Linked DNA regions of Homo sapiens. The protein of the gene in region 1 purifies or fractionates together with the protein of each later gene. This does not show direct contact. Each region holds a gene or a part of one and is shown in the gene's direction. Other genes may lie near its edges.

The links.
Region 2: the proteins of KCNE1 (region 1) and GPR89A purify together in Homo sapiens (affinity purification with mass spectrometry, with the first as the bait; one large-scale study listed by BioGRID). This does not show direct contact.
Region 3: the proteins of KCNE1 (region 1) and INTS7 purify together in Homo sapiens (affinity purification with mass spectrometry; one large-scale study listed by BioGRID and IntAct). This does not show direct contact.

Annotation. Positions count from the first base shown.
Region 1 is NC_000021.9:34,509,266-34,513,676, reverse strand, and holds the start of KCNE1 (potassium voltage-gated channel subfamily E member 1), read left to right. Parts: upstream 1-1,466; 5' UTR 1,467-1,650; intron 1,651-2,352; exon of another isoform or gene 2,353-2,361; 5' UTR 2,362-2,576; intron 2,577-4,411. UniProt on the Homo sapiens protein: Ancillary protein that functions as a regulatory subunit of the voltage-gated potassium (Kv) channel complex composed of pore-forming and potassium-conducting alpha subunits and of regulatory beta subunits.
Region 2 is NC_000001.11:145,606,544-145,610,822, forward strand, and holds the start of GPR89A (Golgi pH regulator A), read left to right. Parts: upstream 1-1,444; 5' UTR 1,445-1,590; coding exon 1,591-1,632; intron 1,633-2,074; exon of another isoform or gene 2,075-2,132; intron 2,133-4,279. UniProt on the Homo sapiens protein: Voltage-gated channel that enables the transfer of anions such as iodide, chloride, bromide and fluoride which may function in counter-ion conductance and participates in Golgi acidification.
Region 3 is NC_000001.11:212,025,446-212,029,091, reverse strand, and holds part of INTS7 (integrator complex subunit 7), read left to right. Parts: intron 1-3,409; exon of another isoform or gene 3,410-3,531; intron 3,532-3,646. UniProt on the Homo sapiens protein: Component of the integrator complex, a multiprotein complex that terminates RNA polymerase II (Pol II) transcription in the promoter-proximal region of genes.

The DNA of each region.
Region 1 (4,411 bases):
AGGATAGATGGGTAGATGGAAAGTTGGATGGATGGATGGATGGATGGATGGATGGATGGATGGATGGATGGATAGGGATTTTGGAGGAAGAGGAGTGAGCAGTCACTGAAAAGAATAGAAAAATAATGAGGCTTGCTCCCTCTCCCTAGTCAGAAGAGCCAGTAAGCAGCTTAGAGCTTTAATCCCACAAATTGTCAGGCAGCTGGCGCAAGAACAGGGAAAAAGAGAGAGAGAGAGAGAGAGAGACCCTGTCTGTGGTAGGTTATGGTCATCAGTGAAAAAGAACAAAAACCTTTGTTTTAAAACTCTCCTCAAAACAGATGATTGGCTAGAGGGTGCGGCACAAAGGAACTTGTCAGGGTGATGGAGACATTCTGTATCTGGATTGAGCAATGCAAGAACCTGGGTAAAGACACAGTCATGGTAACAGCTGTATACATCTGTTGAAAACTCATCAAACTTATCATATTTAGAAAGGGTACATTTTGCTTCATGTAAAGTATGCCTCAATAAAGTGTACTTGATTTTAAAATCAGGATAAAGGAAAAAAACATTGATCTTGGATAATGGGCAGGGGTTGGGGAGAAGGTCTTAATTATCATCATATCCTTTTAAAAACGTTTTTCAAGTGTGTGATGCTCTGATGACATTCTTAAGACACAGCAAGGCAAAGCAGTATCCCAAATGAGAGAGTGAGCATTCCAATAAATATTTTCTGTAAGACACTGATATGTCTATGACTATTTGCTAAATTTAAAAATCAACTTGGACCATATTTACTCCCTTAAAGTCTAATAGACGACTAATTTCTTCTATGTTCAGAACAAATATGTTGCTACTTTAAGAACAGCATACATAGGTGTGGTCGGCCCTCTGTGTCTAAGGCTTCTGCATCTGTGGATTCAACCAACAATGGACTGAAAATATTCCAAAAATAAAATAAAATTAATGAAACAACAACAAAAATAAAACAAATAAAAAAATGCCAGGTAACAACTACTTACAAAGCATTTACATAGTATTAGGTGTTAGAAGTAATCAAGAGATGATTTAAATCACCATCTATGATTGGCTGATATGCATAGGTTATATGCAAATACTATGCCACTATATATAAAGGACTTGAACATTCGCAAATTTTGGTATCTGCAGGGGATTCTGGAACCAAACCCCATGGATACCAAGAGACAACTATATATAAAATACTGAAAGAGGCATGGAGAGTGATTTTCAGGCCTCTACCTAAAGCCCTGAATATTAGAAATTACTGAATTTCTTCTCAGGAAGGAAATTACGCCATAAACCAGTGTTGCCACACACCCAGAGAACAAGATGACCCGACGCCCCAGCCTGGTCATGCCACATGAGCTGAGCAGTGGGTAGGCCACTGAGCCAGTGATAGAAATCACAAATTACAAAACGTCAGAGTACTTTCTGGAAATAAGCCTTCCTCTCCAGGGAACAACGCATTTGACACTTGACTGGGATACACTACCGGATCCTCCGAGGGTGATGGTTCTCAAGAAGGCAGAAGCAATGGTGACCAATAGACCTCCTTAAAGGCTGAGCCGCTGGGCACCTTCCTACTCCTCTCGACCGTGCTAGGATGACTGCAGCAGAGTCCCCGAGTCCTTTGATGCAAGGGTCTAGGTGAGTTCGAAGGAGAGCCATACTAGGCCAGGCAGAAAGGCCCATGGTGATGGCTGTCCACCCTGGTCAGGGGAATTCTAGGTTCAGGCCATGCGGCAAGGTCACCTTGAGGGACATGCTTTGCTCTAAGCTCAGCTTAAGTGTGTCTGAACCCCCCTCACTTCTTCCAACTGCAGAAGCACATGGAGAAGGGGGAGAAAGGGTTGCCCACCTCCTAAAATGAGGGCAGCGTGGTGAAGAGCCCCATCATGCCCCACCAAGGTCCTGTGTGCAGGGCAGGGCAGTGCCTATCCAGAAGGCCAGACCTCTAACTGCTGCTCTGTAGGACGTCCGGGCCTCACATGCAGGCTCCTATAAGCTGGCTGTCTTGGCAAGAGGGCCCTGGTACAGCACTGTGTTCATCACAGAAAACCACACCGTACATAATTTGTAACAGACAGAAATGCATTTGGCTCATGGTTCTGGAGACTGGGAACCCAGGATGGAGGGGCCACATCTGGCAAGGGCCTTCTTGCCATGACATGGTGGAAGGTATCACAAGGTTGGGGAAGGAGGGGTGGGCGGGGCGGGAAGAGAGAGAGAGAGAACAAGAGAGAGAGAATCCATTCATAAGGGTGGAGCCCTCATGACTAAACACCTCCCATTAGGTCCCACCTCCCAACACTGTTGCTTTGGGGATTAAGTTTCCAGCTGGCTTTTTTCAAACCTTAGCAACCACCAAACAGACAAGCCCTTCGGCCTGTCCTGGAGGGCGTTGAATGGCATGGCCTGGAGCTCAACCAGGAGAACCGTGCTCAGGAGGAAGAGACCAGAAGGATAACTCAAAAAGTTCTGAGAAGTTCCTAAGACCACCTGAAGAGAAGGAGCCTGCTGCCAATGGTGTGGACACCGCAGTGTGCTTGAGGAGACTTCAGAAACGAGAACTGGTAGGAGAAGGGGGTTGCACAGACCCTTTCCTCAGTTAGGCACCCTCTGCTCCCACCCTCATGCCCACCCTGACATCAGGCTAAGGGAGAGGCGCTCATCCATTGACAGGTGCCAGGCTGTCCTGGGCCTGGCAAACCCTGGCCTTGTACACCCACTCTCCACACGTCTGCCCCCACCCTCCCAGGGGCAGGGCCGGGCTTCCCTGCAGAGACACAGGGCAAAGAGGGAGAGAGAAGGCCTCAGGCCAGGGCATGGCCTAGTGCCTCCCAGCGCCAGGTCCTGACAGCCTGAGAGAGCTGGAATCAAGGAAGGTGATCCTGGGCCCCAGACAGACGTCAGTGAGCTTCAGCCTCTGGTGGCTGCACACCAGCCAGGGCAGCAGCGCCCCCTCCTGCCTGTGTTCAGCTGTGTGGGCTGCAAGAGGACTAAGGAGAGTTTCAAGGAGGCAGGCAGTGGGGGAGGAAGTGTCCCAGGTAGAGGCTGAAGCTTTAAGGAGGATGGGAGGGGAGGCTTCACCCGGAAGGAGCTTTTGGAGCAAGGGCCTGAAGGAAATTGGGGAGAGAGCCTGAGTATCTTTGGTAACTGGGAAGAGAGCATTCCAAGCAAAGGGAAAAGAAGAGAGGCTGTCAGACAAGTGTGCACCCACCATGTCTGGGCACATCGAGAAGGACCCTGTGGCTGGAGGGGAGGAAGGAGGGGAGAATGGAAAGTGAGACCAGAGGTGACCTGACCAGGGCCTTCGGAGCCCCGGTGAGGGGCTCAGCGGGTGGGTGTCATGGGTGTGAAGAGGTAGGTCCCTCATCACCAGTCAGCAAAGCGTTCCCTGGGCTCAGCTGAAGTCCTGCTGGAGTGTGTGCCCCCTGGACTGGAGGGGATGGGATTGGTGGGAATAAAGTTGTGAGTTTGGAGTTGTGGTGAGCAGAGCACGAAGTGAGCCCCCAGCACTGCCACTTCCGCGTGAGGGGTGAACTGGCCCTGCACTCTCTCCCCTTGAGTGTGGGCAGGACAACCCTCTCTGCCTACAACGGCTCAGCACTCGTACTACTGTGGGACAGTGCTTCTGTGATTACGTTCCTTTATAGGAAAAATTGATTTTGCAGATGTAGGTAAGATCTGGACTCGTTTGACTTTGAGTTTATCAAGAAGGATGATTGACAGACACAGTGGCTACTTGAGAGTGGAGGGTGGGAGGAGAAAGAGGATCAGAAAAAAATAACTACTGGGTACTAGGTTTAGTACCTGGGTGACGAAATAATCTGTACAACAAACCCCCATGACACAAGTTTACCCCAATAATGAACCTGCACATGTACTCCTGAACCTAAAATAAAAGTTGAAAAAGGGGCCAGGCGTGGTGGCTCACGCCTGTAATCCCAGCACTTTGGGAGAGGCCGAGGCGGGCGGATCACGAGGTCAGGAGATCGAGACCATCCTGGCTAATGTGGTGAAACCCTGTCTCTACTAAAATTACAAAAAATTAGCCAGGCATGGTGGCAGGCACCTGTAGTCCCAGCTACTGGGGAGGCTGAGGCAGGAGAATGTCATGAACCTGGGAGGCGGAGCTTGCAGTGAGCTGAGACTGGGCCACTACACTCCAGCCTGGGTGACAGAGCGAGACTCTGTCTCAAAAACAAAAAAAAAGTTAAAAAAAAAAAAGAAGGAAGATTATCCTGATGGGCCTGACTCAATCAGGTGAACCCTGAGAGGACACTGGAGGGAGCAGTGGTGTCCCCTGCTGGCCTGGAGCTGCCACAAGGTGAGACTGGGGTGCCATGTGGCCAGGACTTGAGGGCAGCCTCTAGGAGCTGAGGATGGCCCCCGGCCAGCAGCCAGC
Region 2 (4,279 bases), on another chromosome or scaffold:
AATTCTGGATCAGGGATTGGACATCTGACAGGTAGTTTTGACTGCTTGGTATCACAGAGTTCAATCCAACAAAAGGAAGACATGTTCCCTTGTGTATAATGAATCTGCAGATCACTTATTCAAACTATAGTAGTCTGAACTCAGATGCTGGATGTCAGGTCCCCTCAGGATTGTCTTCCTGCGTCTTGACTGCAGCCACTCCTACACAGGGTGATTTCCTGGGCTGGAGCCAGTTTGCAGGACTATGAGACTATATAGACTACAAAGCCTAGCTAGGCCCCAGGTCGGCGGCAGAGTAAGCCCCACAGCAATGCGTTAAGCCTTCATGAAATGAGTGTTGAATGAATGAGGTAGTGATTCAGTGTATATTTGATCCACTGCAATAGGTGGGAAGGGGGCAGAGGCAGCTACTTCCTAAAATAACCCTTCTTCAGACTCTTAAAGAACTGATCCTTGTTTTGAATTAAAATCTATCTTCATTTAACTTCCAGTCCTTTGCCCTACAGATAATTCGTAGCGCCACATCAGTTCTACCCATTCTTTCACATGAAGACAGATGTCATGTTCTGAGTCATCTTTCTTCGCCTCCTTCCAGCAGCCCTTATCTGGTGGCTCACATTTGAGCGAGCTCCAATATGTCTCTGTAGAATCTCTCTCTTCTTTTTTCTTTTCTTTTTTTTTTTTTTTGAGATGGAGTTTCGCTCTTGTTGCCCAGGCTGGAGTGCAATGGCGCGATCTCGGCTCACCGCAACCTCCCCTCCCGGGTTCAAGCGATTCTCCTGCCTCAGCCTCCCTAGTAGTTGGGATTACAGGCATGCACCACCACGCCCGGCTAATTTTGTATTTTTAGTAGAGACAGGGTTTCTCCATGCTTGTCAGGCTGGTTTTGAACTTGCGACCTCAGGTGATCCGCCCGCCTTGGTCTCCCCAGGTGCTGGGATTACAGGCGTGAGCCGGCCCGGCCTGTAAAATCTCTTCAAAGTGTGGTACATGGAGTGCAGTACTCCACCTGTGGCCTGACTGATATGCAGTACAATATTATCACTAAATTGCTACAGACAGTGTGCTTTTCATTGTTGTCACAGAAATGTATTTGGTTAGTTATATTTGTTCATATCTCATCTGACTTTCCAGTCTTCCCTCACTTTGTACAGTCATATTTGCCGAGTCAAGTAAAAGTTATAACATTTAGGACACAATGCCCGACTTACTATAATTACCATTATTATCTTAGGATCATTACAAAACAGAATTACCACTTAGCTCTCAGGCCCTACCTCCTTCAGCCTCAGAAACGTTAACGCTACCTTGCATTGCTGCTTTTAGCACCGCCCCTAATAAGCCCCGCCCCTGGGGCCTCCGCGGCGGGAGCCTAGCGTCCGCCCCACCCACCCCGAGCCCGAGGCGGGGCTGTGGATGTAGACGCTGATTGGCTGACTGGGGCGCAGCTTGATGGCGTCGGGCTGGAGAGCCGCAGTCCCGGCTGCAGCACCTGGGAGAAGGCAGACCGTGTGAGGGGGCCTGTGGCCCCAGCGTGCTGTGGCCTCGGGGAGTGGGAAGTGGAGGCAGGAGCCTTCCTTACACTTCGCCATGAGTTTCCTCATCGACTCCAGCATCATGATTACCTCCCAGGTGAGTCACCGCCTCCCGCCCCGACACCCGTCCGCCTCCCTTTACCGAATCGCCCTCTCCGGTCCTCCGCGGTGCGGGCTGGTCCGGGGTCTCGCTCCTCTCTTACGCGTCCTGCGCTAGTCACTCTGGCACCCAGAGAGGGTGTGCGATTTGCTGCGGCCGGTTCCCTCAGCCCCGGCTGTCAGGAGACTGGCCTGCGGCCGTCCGCGTCCCCACCCGGCATCCATCCCCGGAATTTCGGTCCACTTTTGGAAGCGGTCCGCCGACCTCCAGGCTAAGAGCCGGCGCCGCCAGCTAAGGCGGCGGTTCTAGGAGCTCCTCGAAGCTTCCGGGCTGCGCCAACTGATCCTGGACTGGGGAAGCCTGTGTGGTTCTGGGCGCGCGGTGTGCGACGCGCCAATACTGGATACTGAGGACACGTCAGTGCAGGCTTTGCTGTTAGATGTCAAATCCTGAATCCGGGTGTGGAGAAATTTGCTGCTTCAAAGTATCAGTATAAGGTAATACCTGTGCTTGAAAGTATAAGGTTTCGTTTTTGCACTGACACCTCGTCCTTTATCCTCTGCTTAGTTACCCACCTTTTCCGGATGTTTTTCTGACCCTCATTTCTTCTCCATTGGCCACCTTCATTTGTTTGTACAGTCAACAAACATTTATCGACCATTATATAAAGCTCTGAGCGTAAAAACATGTAAGACACTGTCTCTGCTCAATAGAAGTTTCGTCTAGTTAGCCTCTTGCTTTTACCATGTAATCTATTGTTAATTATTGTTTCTTCCTAGCATTCATCATAGCACTGGCATCATTTATGTCTGTGTTTCTGATTTTGTTTTTTGAGATCCTGCCTTGTTCATAGCTGTATCCCCACTTCCAAGTGCAGGCATTCAATAAATAATTGTTGGCCAATATTTGTGAAGCTCAGACTGCCTGTTGACCTTCTTCCCCCCATCTTTCCAATAAAGATTTTGTGTGTGTGTGGTTGTTTTTACTTGTTCTTTCTCTCAAACGGCAAATAACAGAAGCAGTTACCTTTGGGGGCTTAAAGTGAACTAAATTTGTGTTCTTTGATTCCGTTTTTGTATTGCTTCATCCTAATACTCGTCTCCGTAGAGCGGAGCATTGTCCTTTTCTCTTCAAAAACTTGTTTACAATATTTAAGAAAATAAGAAAGAAGGAAAAGCCATCCATAATCCTACCACTCTAATGCAATAGTTTTTTCATTTTTAAAATTTACCACCTTTTCTATAGTTTTCATAAGTATTGTTTTTATTGGCTGCATAATATTCAAATGTATTAATGTAAAAAAACCTAGACATGTAACTCTTCTGCTTAAAACCTTTCTAAGACTACCCAGTGCCCTTGGTGACAACTCAGGGTTATTTTTAGCCTTAGTACCAATTTAAGAAAAATAACAATATTTAATTAGCTTTTCTTTTCATTTAGAATAAAGATAAGAATGTCAGTAGAAAATTGGCTTTGCATTGCAGCCTCTACGATTTTTAGCATGGATATAATTGATACGTTGAACCGAGGAAGTGGCTTTCTAATTTTGTATGCCTTATAATCATAGACTTTCACTTCACACATGCATCCACATGCAGTAATTAATTGTTAAACCTGGTTTTTACAAATGTGGAAGAAAGACCCAAAGATTCCTTTGCATGGAATGTTCTCTGTTCAGATATTTATGTGGCTACTTTATCATCCTTTCGGTATTAATAAAAATGTCGCTTTAGGAAGGTCTTACCTGACACCCTGCCCACAACCAAAGTAGCTTTCCATTTCGGCTGCCTTCTTCCTCATTTCCATGTTTTATTTTCTTCTTGGCATTTATTACTATGGTTCATTTGTATATTCATGTGTTTGTTATCTGTCCATGAGGTCCAAGATACTGTCTGTCTTGTTCTCTCCTGTATTCACCAGCATCTAGATCAGTTGCGGGCACATAGTAGAGTTGTAGTGAATATTTGTTTAATAAAAAGCACCTCTCTAGAGAGGTGTGGTTACCTTGGAAACACCACCATTGCCCCCTGCGCCCCTCCCTGCTCATTTTTTCTGTTTTGTATTAACTGAAAGGTTTATTTGAAATGAAATCTGAAATCAGAGGTCACGTATTCAATCTTGCTCACCACGGCACAGGATGAAGTTCAAACTCCTTTACATGGCTTTTCAGGTCCCTTATTGATGGGACCCTGGCTCTTCTCTCTTCAGCTGTGGCTCCAATTTATTCTTTAGACTTCCTGAACTTCTTTTAGTTCCCTAACCTGGCGATGCTATGGTGCCTCCAGATTTCCACACAGTGTGTTTTCTCTTTCTGGGCCTTTTCCTCATATCCCTCCCCTTCTTTAAGCCTTCAGATCTCAAGTTGAACATCCAAGAAGCTTCCCCTAGACTGGACTAGATGTCCCTATACCTACTGCCATAGTACCCTTCACCTACTTCCCCTGTAACAACACTACCACATTGTTTGGTAATTACTTGTTTATCTCCTCCATAGATTATAAACTCCTTGAGAGTAGCATTCATGCTCTCATTTGCCATTCTATCCCTTGGACCTGGCACATATTAGGCACTAATAAATATTTGTTAAATGATTAAAAGGGTGAATAAATGATCCAAGAAAGGTGTCTTTTATAGTTAATTCTTT
Region 3 (3,646 bases), on another chromosome or scaffold:
AATTTATGGTATTCCCCTAATTCCCTAGAATTCATCACCTCAGAATTCCACCATTTAATCACTAATTTAAATGTCTCATTCTTGAATCTTAATCTCTTTCTTTCTAGTTGCTTGCTAGAGATGCATTTTAGCATAGTGGTTAGCACTATAGCCTTTGGAGCTACATTGCCAGAATTTGAATCCCAGCTCTGTCATTTGTCAGCATTGTTGTTTCTTACGCAAATTGCTTAGCTTGTCTGTGCCTGTTTCCTCACCTTTCAAATGGGGAAAATAATGGTACCTAATTTATGTGATTTTTAGTGAGACTTTAATACATGCAAAGTGCTTAAAGTGACTGGCACAGAATAAGCACTTCATGTGTATCATCATTATCATTATGATTAACTGCTATTTTGGCTAGTCTTTATTTTCATTCAGACCTCGGTATTTCACCTCTCTACATTTCTGTACCTGTTTTACTTCTTTGTTCAGCTTAGATTTCATGGTCCTTCATTTTATTAACTGCATTTACTTTCTTACCAGTACTTTAAATTCACATCCAAGGTTCCATTCTACTCATGTATCCCCAAAGGCAGTCAAAAATTGCTGCAGAAAGTCATACAGTGGGGTACATGGCTATCATCATAAATGGGAGCCGAATCTACACTGACCTTCAACATGGACCTGCAGTACTGTAATGTTTCTGCAGTACTACTATGTTTCTTTGGTCAGACACTTCTACCTTCTTCAGTAAGATTTTAGATCTTTTACTTTTCTAAAACCAGAGATCCTGGGGTTTTATGTGAAGTATGATTTGTAAAACTTGACAGTGTGTTCGAAACCTTTAAAAACATTGTGCCAGATAAAAGCATTCTGAGGACCAAATTCAGCAGCCTAGTAGTTTTCTAACTCCAGTATAATCAGTGTGGGCAGGCTAGTTAAATAAGTTATCAAGTGGCAGAAGTTAACTTGAGAATCTAGGTGCTGGCTGGGCGCAGTGGCTCACGCCTGGAATCCTAGTACTTTGGGAGGCTGAGGCGGGAGGATCACCTGAGGTTGGGAGTTTGAGATTGGCCTGGCCAACATGGTGAAATCCTGTCTCTACTAAAAATATAAAACTTAGCCAGGTGTGATGGTGCACGCCTATAATCCCAGCTACTCGGCAGGCTGAGTCACAAGAATCACTTGAACCCGGGGGGCGGAGGTTGCAGTGAGCTGAGATTGCGCCACTGCACTCCAGCCTGGGCGGCAGAGTGAGACTGTCTCAAGAAAAAAAAAAGGAATCTCGATGCCAACCTTTTCAAAGTAGTTAAACAGATGCCTGGGACTCTGCCCCATATATTTAGTAGGTTTGGAGTAAAACCCATAGCATAGATATTTTTCAAAAACTTAGCAGATATTGCTGATGCAGAACCAAGCTGAAAACCACTAGCCTGGCAAAAAGCTCTGCACACTTTAAGTGCGAAATAATGTTAGAATAATGAATGCTTTACTACTGCCAAATGAATTTTGAATGAATAAATGATTTTACAGCCTATTTTAGTTTCCCTGGTCTACATGCATGTTGCAACTGAGTTAAGCACTGTTTAAGTCCAGGCACAGAAAAGGAAGAGAGATCTGTTTTTGTTTTTGTTTTTTTTTGGTGGAAGAATACAAAATAAAATGTAGGTATAGCAATCACATCCCTCCTTCTTAATCTTATCTCTGGGCTTACAGTAGTATTCTTATGATTAGTGGTCTTATGACCAGGGCATTCTTCCTGTAGCAAGCAATACAAATAAAATGTCTAGCCCCTCTTATACTAGAACTGGAACGTGCTGAGCTCCTGTTTTCCAGTGCTTACAAAATTGGCCTAGAGCAAGCAAGATGAGTACCATACTACCCCAACCCAGGGCTGTTGCTAAGTAATAGGCCTTTAAAGCACTTTTTCCTTCTTTTTCACCTTAGCTCCTGTCCTTCGGAGCCAGCCTGAATTCTCACTACCTCTTTCCTAAGGAGGGCTCTTACATCAGAAAATACAGAAGAGGTTTAATATTCTTTAGTTCATTTACCCCGTGGCGTTGTTACAGAGGAATGAGAGTCTATTTTATCTCAGAGAAAAAAGTTTGATGATATTAGATAAATCAAAACATTCTCTCGCTTCATTCAAAATAATCTTTGGTACATTTTAAATCAGCATGTTTAAACAAATCAATATGGTCTTTGGTTCTGTTTTTCAAGGGAAGATAAAACATGATTATATTCTGTCAAGGAGACTACCTGTACATAGGCTGTTTCCTACTATGCCTTTTTCATCTCAGCCAAGGTTAATTCATTACAAACAGAACTTTACCATCCTTTGTATCTAACTCAGCTACTGACAGTGAGAAGAAAATGAAACAATCCAATTACTGTGGATTTTTTCAACCCCTTTGCCAACACATATACGTAAGCACACATCTCTGTTCCTTCTCACCTCCATCCTCAGCTATGTCTTTCCCCTTCTCTGCCCTGTGTGTCCCTTGACCCGTTTTTCATATCAGGCTTTTAGAAAAGTAAGGCTACATGAGCCACACTGCCAGCTACTTAGAATTATCCCTTTTGGCGTTGTGTTTGATAGGAAAAGGATTTCTAGAGCTTCAGAGGCAGTTCTTTGTGTGTGTAAGAGGGTGAAGGGGAGGAGGGAGCAGATGAAGGAGGGATGTGTTCTATCTCAGTTAGAAATGTTAATTAATTTTCCCATAGAAACATTTATTATAAATGGTTATTAGGTTCCAGAGTACTGTGAGTGCCGATAGTGCTATTATTTTCCTATGAGGAAATAATGTTCTAAGTACTGAATAACTAACATGAGTGCATTACGGAACATCACCCATTAGTAAATGATAGAAATTACCTATGCAGTTTTACTTTGTGGTTGTCTTTTGTATGAAACATTGTGGCAACTAGGAAAAGCCTTCAGATTTCCTTTGTCTTTTTGTTTTTTTTGGAGACAGGGTCTCTGTCACCCAGGCTGGAGTGCAGTGGCGTGATATTGGCTCACTGCAACCTCCGCCTCCCGAGTTCAAGCAGTTCTCATGCCTCAGCCTCCCTAGTAGCTGTGATTACAGGTGCCTGCCATCACGCTGGGCTAATTTTTGTATTTAAACGGGGTTTTACCATGTTGCCCAGGCTGGTCTTGAACTCCTGGCCTCAGGTGATCTGCCAGCCTCGGCCTCCCAAAGTGCTGGGATTACAGGCATGAGCCACTGTGCCTGGCCTCCTTTGTTGTTTTTTTTAAGAATAATCAAAGGTTACTGGACAGAGATATTCTAAGATACTTATTCCTGTGAGGACATAATCAGCATTTTGTGACTGGTAAAATACTAAACAGAGACATTTGAAATTGATGCTGTTAAATCCTTACCAAGGTATTCATTCTTAGTGAATTTTTTTTTTTTTTTCCTGGTACAGCTGTGACTCCAGGCAGGATCCAGAGAGGAGTTTTCCAGTCTCTTCTCTGGGTTTTGTAGAGACTTACTTTATCCTTCTATGTTAGCTTCTTAAAGCACCACATCAACCTTAAAAGGGCATAAGAAAGGGCAAATTCTTAATGCATTTTTTAGAAAATTGAATATTAACTCTTTTTTCTTGGTTGGGTTTTTTTTTTAATTTTTTAAATATCAGATTTAGTGAGGTATAATTTGTA